2 separate regions of the Homo sapiens genome follow, and region 2 is linked to region 1. The links come from fine-mapping of genetic effects on gene expression. A gene starts in region 1. The other region holds a variant in brackets. All regions are shown on one strand. Distances are between the middles of the regions.

Region 1 (10,451 bases):
CTTCTTTTTATTTAGTTCCCTCACAAACCATGTCCTTTAAAGAAATGGTATACATGGTGTTCATCTCAAATATCGCAGAGTATAAACTTCCTTTCTCTAGGAGACAGTCCAAATAAGTATGAAGCAATGCATTCAAATGAATATGAAAAAATGTCAGTTTGACCTTAATCATACACCGGATATTACATAAAGCCTTTCTCCTTCTAGGCTAACATTCAAAAATAAAAAAGAAACAAGAAAGAAAAGAGGAAATGAACTTTAAAATACTTAAACTACTCAATAATTAAATTCCCATTTGTCTTTGTTAGCCTAAATTTTAAAAAAAAGTGTGAGACAACTGTAGTAATTCCTAAATAAGGAACCACGCTGACACTATTTAGTAGAAAACCATAAATACTACCGAAATTGATGGGTGACTTTAAAATTCAATTACACTCATCTTATAAAAGAACCATAACTATATCATAGTCATTCCCTGGCAGATGTCATAAATTAGAGCACTATGGCTTGAAAGCCATGTGTTTTATAATATAGTAATCTCAGCTCAGCTGTATTTGGGGTGGGCAGTGACAAAGTCAGCATGATCTCTAATGTGTAAACAAATTAAACATTAGCACTGCTTTATGTATTTAGAATTATTATTATTAATGATAAACACTGACCAGACATCAGATACTTTCAAATATTTCCTCATTTTCAATAGATGAATGATTAATAATTTCTTACAGCTAAATAATAGTATTGTACATTTCACCATACAACAAGCTACACTTTTGGATAATACTAAAGCAGCAAAATAAAGTCAGCATGTCTATTTCAAAAGCTTAGATTGGTTAAAGAGAATGAATATGTTGCAGTGTGGATTATTCAACAAGAATAAACCATTCACTCTTCGATCTCCTCATGAAGTACCAATGAAGAAAGGAGGATGATGGGGTATAAACAGAAATTGCAAGGAACAATGACAGCCTATGGTATTGACCTTCACCTTGTGATAGATACTGCACTAGATTTTTCAGGTGTTTTATCCGATTTAGTCTTCACATATATTCACCGTATATGAATATTTACAGATGAGGACTCTGGGCTTTAGGGTAATTCCACCGGCTGCAAAATTCCACTGGCACAGAGCAAGCAGCGAAAACCCAGTTCAAATCCAGGCCTGCCTAACTCCGTTTTAAGGCTGGCTACACTACAAAGTCAATGGCCACTTCCCTCTTCTCTTGCTTTCTATCTATAAGATCAGTTATGTCAGTATGATGGAATTCCTAATAATAACAAAAACAATGATAACATATCTTGAACGTTTACTGAGTCTTTATTTAATGTGCCACACAAGACATGGTATGCATTATTTCACTAAAAGCCAACAACGAAACTGAGTTGTACATGAAAAACTGAAGCTCAGAGAAGTTGAGAGACCTTGGCTGGGCATGGCAACATGGGAAACAGTCTGTGTGACACACAGCCCACATTCTTAACTCATGCACTATATAATCCCACAGTAAGCCCTCAACTCAACAACCTCTAGCGCCTTAAAAATCCTTAGATAGGCCGGGCGCGGTGGCTCTCGCCTGTAATCCCAGCACTTTGGGAGGCCGAGGCGGGCGGATCACGAGGTCAGGAGATCGAGACCATCCCGGCTAAAACGGTGAAACCCCGTCTCTACTAAAAATACAAAAAATTAGCCAGGCGTAGTGGCGGGCGCCTGTAGTCCCAGCTACTTGGGAGGCTGAGGCAGGAGAATGGCGTGAACCCGGGAGGCGGAGCTTGCAGTGAGCCGAGATCCCGCCACTGCACTCCAGCCTGGGCGACAGAGCGAGACTCCGTCTCAAAAAAAAAAAAAAAAAATCCTTAGATAATCAGAATGAGTTCACTGGTTTTAATTTTGCAAATACAATATAAAACATCAAGAAAATAAGAAGATACAGATTTTGTTTCTGTAATGCTACTTTGAATGTCGTTGGCTTGGTATACAACTATAATCACTTCAATATCTCCTATTACAATACTCCATAATGAGATCTACGATTCAGAATCATATTTTCCATCAATACAAGAAATAATCAGCTGTGCTCACTGCACTGCATTCTGTGTCCTAAAGGGAGGATATAAAATCCACCAGCTCTTAGAAGACATTTTAACAAGAGTTGGATTCAAAAGGAGTTTCACATCACTAAATCTCAGTAAGCTAGAAAATCCAATTAACTATAATACCCCCATTTGCCAGCACTGTACTTAATCCAAATTTTACTGATTGTCGATCAAAACCTTGAAATTATTTAAATATAAGGAACTTTTAGATTAATGTCCTTGGTTTCTTACTGAGACTCAATTGCAATGAATTATTTAACACAAAACTGGAGGGGCTCCAGCAGAATCATTAGCATTAGTAAATATATAGTTAATGTGTTTTAGAACACGGCTTAATGGACTCCAGAACCCGCCTCTGCGACGGTTTGGGTCAGGGTTGAAACATCCTCGTTAATAATGCACACGACTCAACATTTCCCTCTCTCACACTCTTCTTGGCTTCAAACTTCATCTTAATGCAGGGACTCTCCACATGTATCCCTAATTCTGAAGAGTGAAATTAATATCCAATACATGCAATAAATAAAACTAAAGATTGGTTTCATACCATAACTTTACAGTCATCTGGGGAAAGATTTTGCATACCAACACAAAATTTTAAGTCGAAAGACAAAAAAAAAAAAAAAAACTTGGCTAAATTTCGATCCATTGTACTCTCTCACTTGAAGAAAGTTTGCATATCTTACAATGAATGGGTGGAAGGATATCTGTAACACTCATGTGCATCCCAGGGTTTTATTTTAAGGAATTAAGTACCTTTATGTTTAATTTCCATTAACACTTTCGTTAACATGGATGACATTTAAAACAAGTGAAACAAAGACTAGGCAGCTTCCTAGGGACTCGCAGGGGTTATCTTTTGTGTCTATAGCATTCTCTTGCTCAGGGCAGTTACATGTTATTAGTGAAAGTTGTGACAGTAGGGGAGGCAGCTAACTCTTCAGGTTAAAAGGGGTTTTCTATGCCCAGTACTCAAAATCTAACAAACCCATTCCACGTGATACTGCTGTCACCCTATTACAACCTGTGACATGCATTTATTCGTCACTGTCCTAAACACTGTTGGTCAGTTGGTTTGTTGTTTGGTTTAAAGACAACAGCCCCTGAGCTCTATTAAATGGAACAAGTTCGAGAGACATTCCTAAATGTCCAGACAACTCCACAGCGCGCATTTCTCTCCAGCAGCGGGAAGATTCAGAGACCTCGAGACTGAACACCCAAATCTCGCTTTCCAGGACCCGAAGTACCGAACAATAGGTCCCAAGGTAACTGTCCCACTTCCCTTTAGGTTGGATACGTTAAACAATACCAGGGCACAGTCTAACGTTTCACCAATTTCCAAAGCTAAATTACTGACTAAACGCCCAATATCCAAGCCTGTGCGCAAAAAATAACAAGTGGCCCAAGCAGCCGCGCAGCCCCTTGCGCGGTGGGGGCCGAGGGGTCCCCTCGCCCGTCCCCCACGCGCGCGAAAGGGCGAGCACTAGTGGCGGAGGAGGGGAGAACCCATATTGTAGGCTTGAGAGAATCTACAAATGAACCCCCAGATCCTGAGGAAGAGGGGTCTCTTTCCTTTACGTCCTTGCCCTCCCCCGGGTCCCTAGCACTGTGCCCTCGATCCCCGCCTACAACGCACCCCACGCCAGCCCCGCTGGCAGCTGCATGGCTGGTGCCAGGAACGCGGCGGGGGCGCAGGCCGAGGGGAGCGGGCGCTGGGGGGGCCGGGGGCAGCGCGCTACTCACCAATGCGACTGAAACTCTCCGACAAAGTTCTCCGCAACTTCTTCATCTTGCCGATCTTCTCGGCCGGCTGCGGCTCAATGAGGTCACACATCTGGGCGACGCGGAGCCCCGACAACTTCCCCAAACTGGTCCAGGCACAGCTCAGACAACGGCGAGGGCGCGCGCCGCGGGGAAAGCGGCGCCTCCTCCTCCACCACCTCCTCGGCGGGCCGGGAAGCGACGCGCAGGTCTAGGGAGGCGAGCAGCAGGCAGGCGGAGGACGGCAGGCTCCGCTCCGGCCTGGGCCGCAGCTGGGCGGGCGGGGGCGGTTTACGTGGTGCCGGGGGCGGCCGCGCTCGCCGCCGCCGTGGTGGCCCCGCGCCGCGCCGCCGCCGCCCGGCTCATTTTCCCTCCTTTGTAACGGAGAGAAGCGCGGCCGGCAGGGGGAGTGGTGCGGCCGAAGGAGGAGGCGGGGCGGGCCGGGTACAAGGTGCGGGAGTCGCCTGGCGCCGAGTGCGCGGGGCGAGGGCGAGTGGGCCGGCGGGAGAAGTTCTCAGCCCAGAGTTGCGGGCGCAGCGCAGAAGGAGCCGCGGCGCGGAACCGCCAGCCTGACAGCTCCTGCTGCCCTCCTGCTGCCGCCGCCACGCCCCTCCCTCGACGAAGGCCCCTGGGCGCGGGATCCTAGCACGACCTCGGCTCCCCGCTCGCCTCCCGCGTCCTCCGCGGCCCTCTGTGTCTGGCTCGCGCCCCGGCGGCGCCCCCTCCCGGCCGCGCCCCTCCCGGCCGCCCCCGCGCTCCTCCCCCGCCCCGCCCGCGCGCGGGAGGATCACGAAGGGACCGGGGTGGGAGCGGGCAGCGTCTGGGGACAGCGTGTTGGGCTGTGGGGAGGTTACCGAAAGGAAACGGGCCGAGTCCAGTTGTTTGAGCGGTTTTCTCCTTCCACGAGCGTGTGTGAAAAAGCGCGGAGTTCGGTGGAGGGCAGCTGCCAGGACTGCCTCCTGGACTGGGTGCGGTAAGGCCTTAGGGATGCATTCAGATGTAGGGTGCCTTATTTTGGGCCGAGAAAGCTGTCAAGTGAAAGATCCAAGGGGAAAGGTGGGCCTGGATTTTTTTGTTGTTGTTTGCGGTGGGTTTTTTGTTTGTTTTGAGGTCAAGTGCAGAAGCAGCGGAAGCTTCAACTGTAACCCTCCAGAAGGCAGGGATCATGCTGTTTCCCTCATCCTTGTCTCTGATCTTGGTGACACATGTAGGTGATTTCTGATAGGAATACCCAGTTCTGCAGTAAATAGCAGACACAGCCCTTGGTCTTTTTCTATTAAATTCTTAGAATATATTTCTGAATTGGGAGATTTAAAGGCTAAACAGATTCCGACCTCCTTTTCCCCCACCTCAAAAACAGAACTTTAAAAAGGAGTGGGGGAGGTGTTTATAAAATCCCAGGACAAACAGTTCCAGCAGCGAACACACATCGTCTTCATTCTGAAAAAACCTGGTGCGGCGTGAGTTCCAAACGTCAGTCTCCCAGGGGAGAGAGAAGGAAGGTGGGGGAGGGCTTGATTGTGTTGATCTGAGGCCAGCAAACTCCTTATGAATAGAAACGTTAGTAATCTTGAGTCATTTGGCTGTGTAAGTAATAAGAGCTTGTGAGGGTGTGACAATGCTGTTTGGCTTGTAGGAAATTTTGGGGAGTTTATGTTTTGTTAAAAGATTTTTATCTTAAAAACTAGCCCCCTGCCTTCCTTAAATTGTGAGGTAAAACAGTGATTTGTTCCGCCCTACACTGAGCACATTGTAGGATCTTGATAGATTGCGGATGATAAAAGACAGGAAGTCAAGCTAAGTGGGGAGCAGAGGGGGGCAAGGAATTCGCCAGGAAAGACCATATGAGTTAAAACGCAAAGCTGTTGGATCCTGGCTGCCATGTCTAGATAATTACAGACAGCACCAAGGGTGGCCTCATACCGGAAAAAAGTTTGACTTTTACCACTTCCTCAGGTTAGTTAGGGAGAAAGTTTTCAGCAGTTATGAATGAAAAGACAAATGCAACCAATCAAAACACTAATGGGTTGTACGAGTCAACAAACACGAAGAAATATTAATTTAACGAACTTTCACTATTATACACCTGTGACTGTTATCCACTGTGACAATGGCTGTTTCAAATATATAATATGTTAAATATATGTTTATTTTACCTTCGCAGTATTTTTTTTTTTTTTTCCGAGACAGGGCCTGTCGCCCAGGCTGGAGTGCAGTGGCGCCATCTCGGCTGACTGCAACCTTCTCTCCTGGGCTCAAGCCATCCTCCCACCTCAGCCTCCTAAATAGCTGGGACTACGGGTGCGCACCACCACGCCTGGCTAATTTTTGTAGAAACGGGGTTTCATCATGTTACCGACGCTGGTCTCCTACTCTTGAGCTCAAGCAATCCGCCCGCCTTGACCTCCCAAAGTTCTGGGATTACAGGCGTGCACCACCACCATGCTCTTCCCCTTCCCAGTATTTCTGACTTAAAAAAAGTAGTCAGCTTCTTCTTAAATTATGGTAAAAGCATACAAAGGTATGCACCAATTTTCTTAAATGAGATCAGTGTGTACTGATGTGTGAATATGTACAGGCTAATTTGGGAGAAAAGCATGTTTAATATTTTAAACCATTTGTGGAAAAAATGTATACACATCTATGTGTTCCTATATGCATAGAATATTTCTGGAAAAAAGAACAGAAAACTGTTGATTGTATATCCAGAACAGAGAGAACTTTTCCCTTTGCAATTTATACCTTTAAGTATAGTTTGAATGTTCTAAGAATGCTTTACTTTTATAATAATAAAAATACTAATATAAACATAATGAATATTTTCCTTTTCCCTACCCCACTTCAAAACTTCAGCTCTCCCAACTCCAGAACAACTTCCTCTAGTTACAACAGTATACCTGGCAGGAGAAACACCTGTTAAGCCTGGGCCAAATAAAGCTTGGCAATTATGAGTAACCAACTTTCCATTATATGCTCATCTTGCTCCCTTTCCTGGTTATATTTTAAAAGAGCAAATTTTGCAAGAAACTGCAATGCAAAGAAGGACATTTTTAACTTGACGCTTTTAAGATATGTATACTTATTCAACTCTTTCTACTATTATTTGTTTCACATTTGCCTTCATCTTAAACAGTGTAAGTTCAGGGACCCTAAGATATGAAACACACAGTGCCTGTTGCATAGAGAATGTAAATTAATGTTTGTCAAATAAATATAGAATGGATTGCTATCTCTGAGAAGTGATGTGTTGTCCTTGGAAACAAAGATGACTATCCAGCATCTGTGTAGCATGTTTTTTCAGTAGGAGAATGGATCTGTGCCAGTTCTCCATCTCAACTTCTGGTTTACAAGGTTATAGTTTTGCATGGCCTGAATTAAAGGTGCAGTGTTCAAGTACAAAGAGATAAGCTTATCTAGAGGCTGAACCCAACATGGGTTGACCTTAACCAAATTCACCAATTAAAGGATACAAGTGTATTGGAGTTCAGTAGTAACAAAAGTGGCTGGGGACCCAGGACTCATGAGTTCTAGTCCCTACTGTCTATCACTAGGTGCATTGTAGCCTTAGACAAGTAAGTGATTTACCTATTTTCTTATCTATAAAATGAGGGGCTTGAACTAGATAACCTCTAGGTCCATTCATAGCTGCAAAATTCTAATTCTAAAGTTAATGGTGAGCCAGAAGCAATTACCCATACCTACAGTCTCAGCTACTCAGGTGGCTTAGGTGGGAGGATCTCTTGAGCCCAGGAGTTTAAGACCAGCCTGGGCAACACAGCAAGAACCCATCTCTAATAGATAAATAAAATGTAATGATGAAATTTTCCCTCTTCCATCTTATATACTATAGATAGATATATTAATGAAGAGTAAGTCATACACAAATAAGATAGACAAGGATTCATTGCCAAAAATTATGTGAAATTTAAGATACATCATTTCTAGTCACATTACATATACATTATGCTTTTATTATAAAATAAAATGTGGATATTTTCCACATAAGAAAAATATCAGGCTAGTATGCTGGTAGTAGATTATAAGGGAAAGAATCCTAATTTAAGTAAGATAAAATATAAAGGATTTAATTAGAATCCAAAATTCCAGCAAAAGCAGACTTATTGATCTGAAACAGTTTTTAAAATATTATCAGAGAAAAGAAATCCATGAAACAAGGATACCAAGAACATGAAGAATAGAGCTGGAAAATGAGTTTCAAAAAGATATGTTTATAATGTAAAGTTTTAGAATTTAGCCAAAGCATAGATAGTTAAAGATTAAGACATAGTGCCAGAGTATAATTATTAAAGTGGTAGACATTTACATTATTAAATATCCTCTTAGAGCTCTAAATAGTCAACCTATTTAACTAGTTTTAGGATCAAATTTATCCTTTTTGAACACATCAGGAACTGAAGTAACACAAGGTTAAGTGACTTGTACAAAGTTCTCAGTGAGTCATCAGTAAAATTGGTACATTGACTCTAAAACTCTTGTCACCAACCCTTATGTTCCAACTATTGGACAGTATCCAAACTTAAAGAGTTCTTTTTTTTTTTTCTTTGACAAAGAGCAAATTGAAATCAGAAAGGGGAGTAAAATGGAAGGTTCCAGAAACCAGTGTATTCACAACTCAGGTCAATGAAGGCTTCCCTCATCTCTCCTCCTTGTTCCACCACCCATCCTTTGCCTACTCCTTCCTAATTCAGAGCCTTTTCACGTTTACAGAAATCACTGTCTGCTGACACAAAACCTCCAGTCTTGTTCGAAAATGAGACCTACATTTGCTTATTTTATAGGTAATTGTACATTTTTTCATCCTACATCTCAAGAGACCAAGGGACCTAAGTAAATTGATCTACTTGCCAATGACTGTAAGAAAGACAAAGAAGTTGTAAAAACATCCAAATGATGTTAAACATAAATTAGCTCAGAATAGTTTGCAGAAGATAAACTACCAGCGTCAAAGCATGCATTAAAAACTGGTAAGTTCCCCTCTCCCATTAAACCGTGCTTAAATATGATAATGCATATCATTCATGTTTTTTATTGTTACATAACTTGTACTATAGGCATTTATACGAGAAAACATCTAACACTATTCTAAGATACAGTTCACTTAATAATGCTTTTGGTATTACTTGTATTTGTGGTACAGATGTGCCATTAACTGTGGGTCCTCAGTCATGAATGGCATCAATTTCAATGTATCATGTTGCATTCATCAAAACTAAACTTCAGAGACCAGCCCTGTAATTGAACCCTGGACATGGATGTGAAAGTGGACAGAAACTAAAACCTTAGTGAACTAAAACCTTATGGCTTTTGTGCAGTCCAGACAAGTCCTGTTAAGGACAATTAAGTTCAGAAATGCACCTTTTCTATCAAAAACATCCTAGTCTTTCCTCCCAGGCCCTTTGACAGTTCATCTGCATTCACATGTCTATTCTAATCAAGCACTTACAAGCCAAAAAAAAAAGTATCTATAGAAGTCATATTGATAGTATCATTGCACATATGACATTCTCTAGCTAAAATAACTCAATATTTATAACTGTACAATGTTACTATTATAACTTGTGGTTTTATAATAGGCTATGAATTAATGATCTCATTTTATCTTAACTCATACTACCCCAAGAGGCATTATCATTATCACTAGGTTACACAAGAAAATGGGCCTAGAAATGCCAAAAGTATGTGCCCAAGATCATTACACAGGTTCCAGTTCTAAATTGACACACACTTGTTTACCAAAATGTTTCCTTTTATAAAGCATTTTGATTGCATGATGGTAGTCACTTCTTTTTCTTTTGATATACTTTGGTATAATCATGATTGTCCTTATTGTATAGAAAGGAACTCTTCTGAAGCAAAGAGAGTTCAAGAAAGTGGCCATACTCAGACAGGTTAATAAATGCATCCAAACTTTTAACTTACGACACTGTATTTTGCTTTTTCCTACCTTATAGGAAAGAAATTAAAAGTGTGGTATTGAAAGATGTACAACTGACTTTGGAAAAAGGATTCCTCTCTAATTGGTGTTTGTAAGTGATCGAAATAAACATTTTTAAACTATCATTTGTGGAATCATTGCTACATACTAGGCAATTGAAGACCTCCACTTTCACCATCACCCTATGAGTTGTCTTTTATGATCCTATTTTACAGGTGAAAAAACTAAGGTCCATTGAAATCAATTTTTTTTTTTTTTTTTTTTTTTTTTGAGATGGAGTCTCACTTTGTCGCCCAGGCCGGAGTGCAGTGGCGCGATCTCGGCTCACTGCAACCTCCACCCCTGGATTCGTGCGATTCCTCTGCCTCAGCCTCCCCAGTAGCTGGGATTACAGGTGCCCACCACCACACCCAGCTGATTTTTTGTATTTTTTAGTAGAGACGGATTTCACCATGTTGGTCAGGCTGGTCTAAAACTCCTGACCTCAAGCAGTCCACCCTCTTCAGCCTCCCAAAGTGCTGGGATTACAGGCATGAGCCACCATGCCTGGCCTGAAATCAAATTAATTTCCTAAAACTACACAGCTGACCAGGCACGGTGGCTCACACCTGTAATCCCAGCACTTTGGGAGGCCTAGGCA
Region 2 (10,451 bases), 610 kb before region 1:
ATGATGCATGTGAGCTTAGAATAGTTTTTACATTTTTAAATAGTTCTTATCCATTTGACCCAGCTATCCCATTACTGGGTACATACCCAAAGGAGTATAAATCATGTTGCTATAAAGACACATGCACACGTATGTTTATTGCGGCACTATTCACAATAGCAAAGACTTGGAACCAACCCAAATGTCCAACAGTCATAGACCAGATTAAGAAAATGTGGCACATATACACCATGGAATACTATGCAGCCATAAAAAATGATGAGTTCATGTCCTTTGTGGGGACATGGATGAAGCTGGAAACCATTATTCTCAGCAAACTATCGCAAGGGCAAAAAACCAACACTGCATGTTCTCACTCATAGGTGGGAATTGAACAATGAGAACACATGGACACAGGAAGGGGAACATCACACACCAGGGCCTGTTGTGGGGTGGGGGGGAGGGGGAAGGGATAGCATTAGGAGATATACCTAATGTAAGTGATGAGTTAATGGGTGCAGCACACCAACATGGCACATGCATACATATGTAACAAAACTGCACATTGTACACATGTACCCTAAAACTTAAAGTATAATAAAAAAAGAAAAAAAATCAAAAGAAAAGCAATATTTTGTGGCATGTAAAAATTATATGAAACCCAAATTTCAGTGTCCACAAATTGCTGTATTGGAACACATCCATGCTCATTCATGTATGTATTGTTCATGGCTGTTTTCACACTACAGCAGCAAAGTGAGTAGCTGGGAAAGAGACCGTGCAGCCCGGGAAGTCTAGAGTATTCACTATCTGGCCCTTATAGAAACAGTTTCCTGACCCTCACCCTAGAGTAGCAGACAGGCAGGAGGAAAGGAAGAGTCTAGCAGTTCTCACGCTGGCTGCACAATAGAATCACCTGTTGATTTCTCCAAGCAGACCCCCCGCCACCCATAATATTTCTTGAATGGTTTGGGGTGGGGTTTTTTTTTTAAAACTTCCTGGTGATTCAAATGAGAGTCAGGACTAAGAACCACTGGGCTAAGGGAATAAATACATGAAGGTCTGAATTTCCCAAATGTTAAGCAAGATGGTTGCAGGACTGGCCTGCTTTTCCCAGGGAATCTTAGTGGATTACAGCCTTTCTTGAGGAAGAAAGGTACCCAGTGATGAGATTTGGTTGAAGATGGAGAGGGGGCAAAAGACTAATTGTTTCTCACTGTAGTATGATTTATAAGCTAAGTTCCATTTTAACCTCTCTAAACCCTTGAACCGTTGTTTCAAACATGTATCCCTGGCATTATCCGCATCTCTCAGGCAGGCACACCTTGCGCTATGTAGCACATAGCTTTGCAGGGACCCCTGCTGGGTCACTTCTCAGGATACACCCCAACGGGGAACCCTTACGCCATCTGTGCAGCATGCCCTCCATAATTATTGGTGGTCTCGCAGGGAAGGAGAAAAAAGACAGCTCTATCAGAATCCCATTCTCCACTAGCACAGTCAGCACCATTGGCAGAGGATGGCTCTGGGGCTGCAAGGCTGCTCTGAGCTATTATTGTGCCTGGCTCTCTCTCAGCATGACTCAACGCAGACAATATAGCACACCGAGAGCATGGGGGATGAACAGTAAATACGAGGCCTTGGATTTTTTTTTAATCTTGTCAGTTTTTCCCTGATTTGTGTCCTTTATCCTATCCCCCTCTGCTATATAAGCTTCTCAAAGCTAATGCCCATAACGCCACCACCCACTGGTAGCAGCAGGCTGCTGGGCCACTGTGGGGTTCTCATTGCAGAGATTTACAATGCCCGCCATTATTCAGCAACTGTACGTGTTAACCCAGTGGCACAAGGTTGCTCCAACACCTTCCCCTCTGGTTTCTCTTTACTCGGGAGGCCAACAGCGACTATAGGAGTGCCGCCCTCCTGACTCGAACTGCTTGCCTCAGTGAGCACACATCACGTCCTCCAACCTGGCAGAGCTGGAATAGGCCCCGCTGAAAGACAGGAACGTTGGGCAATTATGAAACTGAGATGATGCTTGACATTTGTACTGCCACATTAAAAAAGTTAAAAATATTTCTCAAAGGTGTTTCTTTGGCCTCTTGTAGATATCTACCCTCCATCCCCTTCTTTCTTCTACTAAGAGCTGATGTGATTACATCTCTAAAATGTGACCTTGCTGCAAGGCTGCTGGGAGTGATCTCAACAATGAGCCTACAGGCTACTGTGGCTGTTAGGAGGTGAAACAGTGCCATACATTTTGCTCCCTCGAAACAACTCCCTGGAACAAGTTACTAATTTCACACTTCTATTAATTCTAATCAGTTTCAAGGGTGATTTATGGCTCCCATTTAACTAAGAAATGTGCCTATTATCTCTACCTTGGCTACTGTGACGTCTACCTCCATGCACTCTCCCGTTCCAGAATCCAGTAGTGGAGGCAGCAACTGTCTGGAAATGCGTTTGCCTGTGTATAGACGATTTACTGCTTCAGGAGAAATAGAAGAAGCACTTGGGGGATGAAGATGCGGTCACTCTCATGAGCTTTTCTGGAGAGAAATATGCATCGGCTGAGGACACCTATGTTTGGTTTTGTGCGAAGGGTTTACAAACTGAAATCACAGAGGTTACAGGAGAAGAGCAGGTGAAGGAAAACATCAGGTAGCTGCTCCTGGTGGGTAAACGTCTGCCCAGAAGAAAGCTGGGAGTCTTGGGGGTCCTCTTAACATGGAACGTGAACTTGTGAGACACTTTTTTTTTTTTTTTTTTTTTTTTTTTTTAGGCAGAGTCTCTCTGTTGCCCAGGCTGGAGTGCAGCGGCGCTATCTCGGCTCACTGCAACCTCCGCCTCTGCCTCCCGAGTAGCTGAATTACAGGCGCCCGCCACCATGCCCGGCTAATTTTTGTATTTTTAGTAGAGATGGGGTTTTGCCTTGTTGGCCAGGCTGGTCTCATACTCCTGGCCTCAGATGATCCACCCGTCTCAGCCTCTCAAAGTGCTGGGATTATAGGCATGAGACACTGCGCCCAGCCCGTGAACACTTTTAAGTCACCAAATACCTGGCATGAACATTATTAGCAATTTATCAAATCATGGGGGCCTGTTTGGGGTTATGACATATCTGACAAGAAGGAAAAGGTGATGATGGAAAAGGGACTGGCCTCCCAGGTTGGCACTGTCAATCCAAACGTGGGATCCCAAGAATGCCCTGCAGTTTCAGGTGCAGATGCCTCCTGCGTGGTGTTCAGGGAAGTAAGCTCAGTTCAGAAAGAACAGTCATGCTTCTTGCAGAACACCAGTACACTCAAGCTTTTGTATTTGTATTCAGTGGAGGGTAACCTACTCACCCCATCTTTGAATATGTGCAAAAAATAGAGAAGGAGGCAATAAAAGATAAATAGGGCTGCCATTAAACAGAACCAGAAAGGCTCCAGATCCATCTGAGATGGGCAGAACATGTGACATGTGTGAACATCAGGAAGGGGCTGGGGGAACTGTGAAGATCCTGCAGCTCACAGATCTGTTTCGCATGGTCTCTACTCCTTTACATAAATTTGGCACAGCAAATCAAGGAAAGGGGAGGGTTTAACAGACTCCTGGACCATTCCAGATAACTCACTCCTTCCCACATATTGTGTATTTGTTCTTATTTCACTGTGTAAGAATGGTTGTGTTCAAGAGGTTTTTAAGTCAATGTTTCTTTGATATGGTATATGCTCTTACTGGGCATCCACCAAGAAGATGTACCTAGAACATGTACGGAGATTCTGCTATACTTTATTCCATATCATGTTACAAGAAAACAACAGTGACAGCTGACAAACCATTACATCTTTCATAATACAGACAAATTACAACTGGTAACAAATATGCAACATGTATTATTCCATTCTCCTTACTATGTGTCATTTGAAAGTATAATAGTTTTCTGAATAATGCTACCACATTTCTTAGGTACCAATCCCCTGTTAGAAAGTACACATCTCAGTGCATCATACAAAAAAAAATAAAAGATAAAAGGAAAACTTTAAAAATCCACTCCCAACTAGAGAATGTAGGTTTTGTATGTGCCTCTAAAATATGCTGCTGTGGGAAAAGGAATGAGAATAGAAGATTGCTTATTTTATTGATTTTTTTGGTGTGTTTTTGGTGTATGAGAAAAGTACAAGGCAGTAACATATACAGTTTCCTCTGCCTACAAGCCAGTAAGGGAGATGGAAGTTATGCGCAATTATGCAGCATATTCCTATGTATAAGGGGCAGGCAATAATCTACCCCAGTATATACAGCCTAAACATCCTCTTATATAACAAAGATTACAAAACCAATAATATTCACAGATGAGTATCATATAGACGCATAACCTAGGGTATTGATTATACTGGCTGTCATATACACACTGAGGAAAGGATACCAAGAGGCCTCACTTTCTTTGCAAGCCTGGAGGTGCTCCTAGAAACTTTCTAGTCACTCTTGCGAGGTAGAAATCGCTTCTCACCCCAGAATCAGTGGATGGACAGCCACCCTGCTTTATGTACCCTATTTTTTGCTGAGTACTGCAAACATTTTTTTTCACATCCTATGTATCTCATATTTTTAAGTCAACAAAACTGTTATTTTAAGAAAATGGGAATTAAGTGTCAAATCTCCTTTCAGAATACTGTGTGTGCAGTGATGTGCTAAGGTGTTTGTACTATTCTTACCATCTGTTTGAGTTCAGGCTATTCCTTCATATAAAAATAATCTCACAAAACATTCCAGTGCTTTCTCAATAGAATAATAAATCTGCTAATCAA[C/T]ACAGTCTGAATTGATTTTCATGACTGCCCACAAGGAGGGCAGAAGAGAAAAGAAGCAGAGGGAGAATATGATTGCAAATAGGGGAAGGAGAGAGGGAGGGAGGGAGTGAGAGGGGTTTGGGGGGAGAAAGAGAAAGAAAGAGACAGAGAGAGAGAGACACCAAACTTTGGATTTCCTGTATGGGTGGCAAGGATAGGTACTCAAAACCTCCTGACCTTCTGAGAGGCATGTCTCTGTAACAAAACAGATTTCTCCGTCCACTGAGTAATGTTATATTTCACTTCTCCGAAGAAGCTGCCTACGACAGGGAGATATAACTCTAATAGCCCTAATTGAAGTCTTTCAACATTAAATATTTTCAAATTTTCAAGTTAAAAACCTTATTAAAAAGCAACATTTAATCATCAGTTGCTCTTGCTTTAAACTTAGTGAAATACAAAGGTCATGCCTCTTCTCCAAATGAATGATTAAAAACAAATCACAGGAAAGTCCATTTTTAATTGCATGTAAAGTTTTCTCCCTATGTTTTCTTTAAGAAATCCTAATTTAAGTATACTTTAAATCAAAATACCTCTAAAGACTTCCAGTGGGTTGGAATGTATGAAAGAGGAATGGAAAAGATTTCTAGGTAGCAAACAGTAGACATTCTACACTTGGGTGTTTTCTGCTCTCTTTAAAACCAATCAGTAAATAATTCCTTGCTTAGCACTTAAAAGTTTACCATGAATGCTACATCTGGATAGGATGAACTATGACTTTGACATAACCATCCATACTCCACTCCGCAGACAGTACCATTTTAAAGTTTAGGAATTCTGGATCCAGTTTCCTTGGTGTATTGAGCTTGATTATAGAAAAGCTTTACCCTCACCCAACTCTCAGAAAAAGTCCTTGTCAACCTGGCTCCTAATTCCTAGTCTTGATCCTAAAACAGTATGACACATTTCAAGCACTCACTCATTCTCTCCTTCTTTCTGACTAATAGGAAAATGTAAGACACTGTACACAAAGGTATTTCCATAGGAATTTGTGTGTAGAGGAGCTAGGTTTCATGCTTTAGATGAAGTCTCCTAACTGTCCCCTTGGCCGCAGTACTACTGGGCATTCTGCAGCGAGGCCTGCCCCACTGGGAGCCGGCCTGCATCAGGCAGCCCTCCCTCCAGATCAAAGCAAAAGACATGCCTGGTCCACTTTTCTCCAGTGTCACATACTCGCCTTCATCCTCCAAGGTCCCTCAACTCCTTGAGTAAGGGAAGCTGGCCCATTCCCTTTTTCATCTTTAAAGCAAGATTCCTGCATTGTTTCTAAAACCTGCATTTGAACAGTTATTCCAGGAGATGTCTTAAAGTAAGAACCCAATGATGTCTTCCAATTGGCTTGGAATGTTTTTTTAAAATGTATTTTTTTTAAAGGTGCTTTGTTGTAACTAAGCAAACTTTGAACTGGATCACTTTGTAATTTACTTTGTAAGCCCTAACAGGCCAAGACTGCTTTCAAGGCTCATCCAGCAGATATAGTTCTTTTGCACCAGATTTAAAACATTCTGTTCCTCACTCTTTTCTCCAGTTAGAAAATACAAAGTGTAACAGAATGGATGGAAAAAAATTAGATGTTGACAAGACCCAGACACAAAAAGTTACCTCAATCTCCAGAGGTTGAAATGTAAGCAATTTATCCCTGTCTTTGTTCTTAACGTTTGATAATTGTTTTTTCAATTCCAACCTATTCAAAAAACAGTCATGCTATGTGGCTTGAAAATGCTAAGCAGAGTCCAATATCCTATATATAAATGTGCAGTTATTTCCAAGTAAAAAAACCACATTTGCAAAATTACCTCAAAAGGTAAGCAACAGGTGGGGCCCCACAGTCCGGGGCCAAGTTGTCAAGTCAGAGAACAGGGGTTTGCTTTAGCAGAAAATTTCCTTCCTAGTGGTTGCAAAATGTGCACTGCTCTCAAAGAAAACACACATTGTTTTATGCCACTCTGTGGCTTTCAAGTTCAGACATTACTGAAGAAGTGTGAACACCAAATGTGTTGTCTTAATGTATTTAAGACATGGCTGGTGAAAGCATAAAAACCTTTACAGAGACGCTGTGCTGCAGAGGGAAATCAAACAAAATCAAACACAAAAGACTGAAAAGAATACATGCCATGTATCAGTAAGCAAAGCTTAATCTTCACGTAGTTCTTGGAAATCACAAGGTATCCAAATGCGTGCAAGGTTTTAAATAAATTGCAGAGAAAACAGGGTCTTGCCAGCTTCAATTTTCTTGTAAGTGAAATCCACCACAGGGAGCGAAAGAAAACTGATCCATGATTCCCTTCATATTATTGGCCTCTTCATTAATGTTTTTTTTTTCTTCCCAGAATGATGACAACTTAATCCTGGAAGGAGGAAAATAGAAAATTGTTATATAAAAAATCTACACCATTCATTTCTTCTAAATTACATGAAACATCAAAATTGGTCAGTCCAAAGTGAGTCCACTGATGTTCCCCACAGCCACTCCAAACACATAAATATGAAGCAGAATAGCCTCCTTAACCAAAAAAAAATCCTTCTAATATGATAAACAAATGTTCTGACTACACTTTCCTCTCTTAAAATCATTTAACTCCACCAACTGAATTGGTCTATCTTCCTCTTGGATATTTAGAGAAAAAGAAATTCAGCAAATTTCCTTCCCTAAATCATTAGTAGCAATACTGGTCTTAATTAAGTGCCTGTAGCATCATACAGACCATTAAAAGGACGTATCATTATGTTCATTTTTATGAACATGAAATAGAAAAACGGATCACAAACACGCTTTTAAAAAAATTCAGCTGTATATAATTCCTTGGTTGCCTATTATCATTATTTCAGTTCCAGCAGAATGAAAATTGGCCAGTGTGACCTGAATTGGCAGCCTCTTCCCAACATCCTGTATAGGACTGCGTGTTTCCAATAATGCCTGCTTAAAACAATAACAACTTGTGGGTGAATGGTTCAAGCAAAAAGAAGGAAGCTTCACTCTGTCCCTTTCCGTACTTCCTTTTGGCCCTTAAGCATTTTCATTGAGTCTCCAGGATGGGAAAAGAATGCCTTGCCAGGATGGGTGGAAACACTCCCAGGTTCAAGGCACATAGCTGAGGGATCGGTTCATTAGCTGCACTGAATCCCAGAACCAGTTCCTTAGCTAAGTTTAGAAGCTGCTGGTCACTAAGGCCTGGTGAGGCCTTCATGTCTCCAGCTACAGGGCCATAGAGTCATCTTCCCAGATGCAGGGGGAACCCTGGATGGTGCCTGATCCCAAAGGTTTTGTCCTTTTTTTGAGACTTCACAGTGCACCTGTCCTGCTGCTGCACACACAGGCTGTGGCATCAAGGACATCACCCCTGCATAGCAGCAACCCAGCAATACCTTGTCCAGATAGCAGAAATTCCACTCCTATGCTCAGGAACCATTAAAATAGTGGCCGGGCACGGTGGCTCATGCCTGTAATCCCAGCACTTTGGGAGGCCGAGACGGGCAGATCACGAGGTCAGGAGATGGAGACCATCCTGGCCAATATGGTGAAACCCCGTCTCTACTGAAAATACAAATACTAGCCAGGCGTGGTGGTGTGTGCCTGTAGTCCCAGCTGCTTAGGAGGCTGAGGCAGGAGAATGGCATGAACCCAGGAGGCAGAGGTTGCAGTGAGCCGAGATTGTGCCACGGCACCCCAGCCTGGGCAATAGAGCAAGACTCCCTCTCAAAAAAATAAAAAAAATAAAAATAAAAAGAGCATTCTCTCCACCATCTGCTCATTTCCCCCACTTACTATGGTGAGTTTCTGGCAAGTTAACTTTCCATTCTTTTTAAAAATTGAAGCAAAATTTATATAAAAAATTAATCATTTAAAAGAATATAATTTAGTGGCATTTAGTGCATTCACAATGCTGTGCAACTATCATCTCTATTTAGTTCCAAAACATCTTCATCACCCCCAAAGGAGATCCTATATCCTTTAAGCAGTCACTCCCATTCTCTCCTTGTCCCAGCCCCTGACAACTATTAATACTAATGTTTCTGTCTCTATGGATTTACCTGTTCTAGATATACAAATGGAATCATATAATATGCTACCCATTTTGTCTAGCTTTTTTCACTTAGCATGATGTTTTTGAAGTTCATCCATGTTGTAGCATGAATCAGTACTTCATTATTTTTTAGGGTTGAATAATATTCTATTGTATGAATATACCACAGTTTGTTTATCCATTCATTGGTTGATTTATATTTGTGTTGTTTCATCTTTTGGCTAATAGTGAATAGTGCTGCTCTGAATATTCATGTATAAGTATTTGTTTAAACACTGTTTTCCATTCTTTTGGGTATATATCTAGAAGTGGAATAGCTAGGTCATATGGAAATTATATGTTTAACTTTTTGAGGAACTGCCAAACTGTTTTCCATCATGGCTGTACCATTTCACATTTCCACCAGCAATGCACAAGGGTTCCAATTTTGCCAAAACATTTGTTTGTTTAAAAAAAATTATAGCCATCCTAGTGGGTATGAACTGATTTGCACTTGCATTTCCCTAATGATCGATGATGTTGGGCATCTTTTTTTTTTTTTTGACTGGGTCTTGCTCTGCCACCCAAGCTGGAGTGCAGTGATGTAATCCTAGCTCACTGCAGCCTTGACCTTCCTGGGCTCAGCTGATCCTCCCACCACAGCCTCCCAAGTAGCTGGGACTACAGGCACACATCACCATGCCTGGCTAATTTTTTATATTTGTAGAGACAGGGGTTCACCATGTTGTCCAGGCTGGTCTTGAACTCCTGGGCTCAAGCCATCTGCCTGCCTTGGCCTCCCAAAGTGCTGGGATTACAGGCATGAGCCACCATGCCCAAGCTGTTGGGGACTCTTTCATGTGGCTGTTGGCCATATGAATATCTTCTTTGGAGAAATGTCTATTCAAGTCCTTTGATCATTTTTAAATTGGGTTGTCTTTTCGTTGTTGAGTTGTAGGAGTTCTTTACACATTCTGGTTAATCCCTTATAGTATGATTTTTCTCCAATTCCATAGGTTGCCTTTTCACTCTGTTAACTGTGTCCTTTGATGTACAAAAGTTTTTAATTTTGGCAAAGTGCAATTTATCTTTTTTTTTCTTTTGTTGCTTATATTTTTGGTGTTATATCTAAAAATCCATTGTGAAATCTAAGGTTATGAAGATTTACCCCTATATTTTCTTCTAAGAGTCTTATAGTTTTAGCCCTTGCATTTAGATCTTTGGTCCATTTTGAGTGAAGTTTTGTATATGGTATGAGGTAGGGGTAACCTTCTATTCTTGAGAGTTCTCTGTCCTCAAAAACAAAAGCCTTAAGTTTCCAGGAGAGGCCTGGGGGTAAATGGATACCACACATAGGCCCTTTGCTACCTCTACATCCCAACAGTTATTATCTCAAATCCTTGCTGCTTGTGGGCAGTTCTCCATAAGGCTCACTTGACCACTCCTCATCCTTGCTTGATTGTGCAGATATACCTTTATCAAACCTCTTCTTAAAGAAGTCACCACCCTAGCAAAAATAATTACATGGGAACAAACTCCTTTGTCCCCAGCCTACCCTTGTTCTTTCAGGGAAACGAAGAACGTGCTCTACATGCTGCTCCATGTAACTATGCATTCTGATCTAGGCACTGGC

Which allele goes with the higher level. Positions count from the first base shown, and alleles are read on the strand shown. Sizes are in standard deviations (SD) of each study's normalised expression.
As copies of T replace C in region 2, the expression in skeletal muscle of the gene that starts at base 4,235 in region 1 goes up (small effect, 0.26 SD a copy in GTEx).

The links.
Region 2: its variant is fine-mapped to the expression of CDK14 in skeletal muscle (GTEx, PIP above 0.99).

What each region holds. Positions count from the first base shown.
Region 1 is chr7:90,590,105-90,600,555 of GRCh38, reverse strand. It overlaps CDK14 (cyclin dependent kinase 14), which reads right to left and starts at 4,235. Exons shown (of 15, transcript NM_001287135.2): 1 at 3,838-4,235. The coding sequence starts at 3,928. RefSeq lists silencers at 3,598-3,647, 3,708-3,907, 4,098-4,407, 4,428-4,627.
Region 2 is chr7:91,203,876-91,214,326 of GRCh38, reverse strand. CDK14 (cyclin dependent kinase 14) reads right to left here. Exons shown (of 15, transcript NM_001287135.2): 15 at 3,737-7,162. Among named protein-coding and RNA genes, the nearest start is that of FZD1, 55 kb to the left of the region's middle. The variant C/T (reference allele first, on the strand shown) is at 4,776.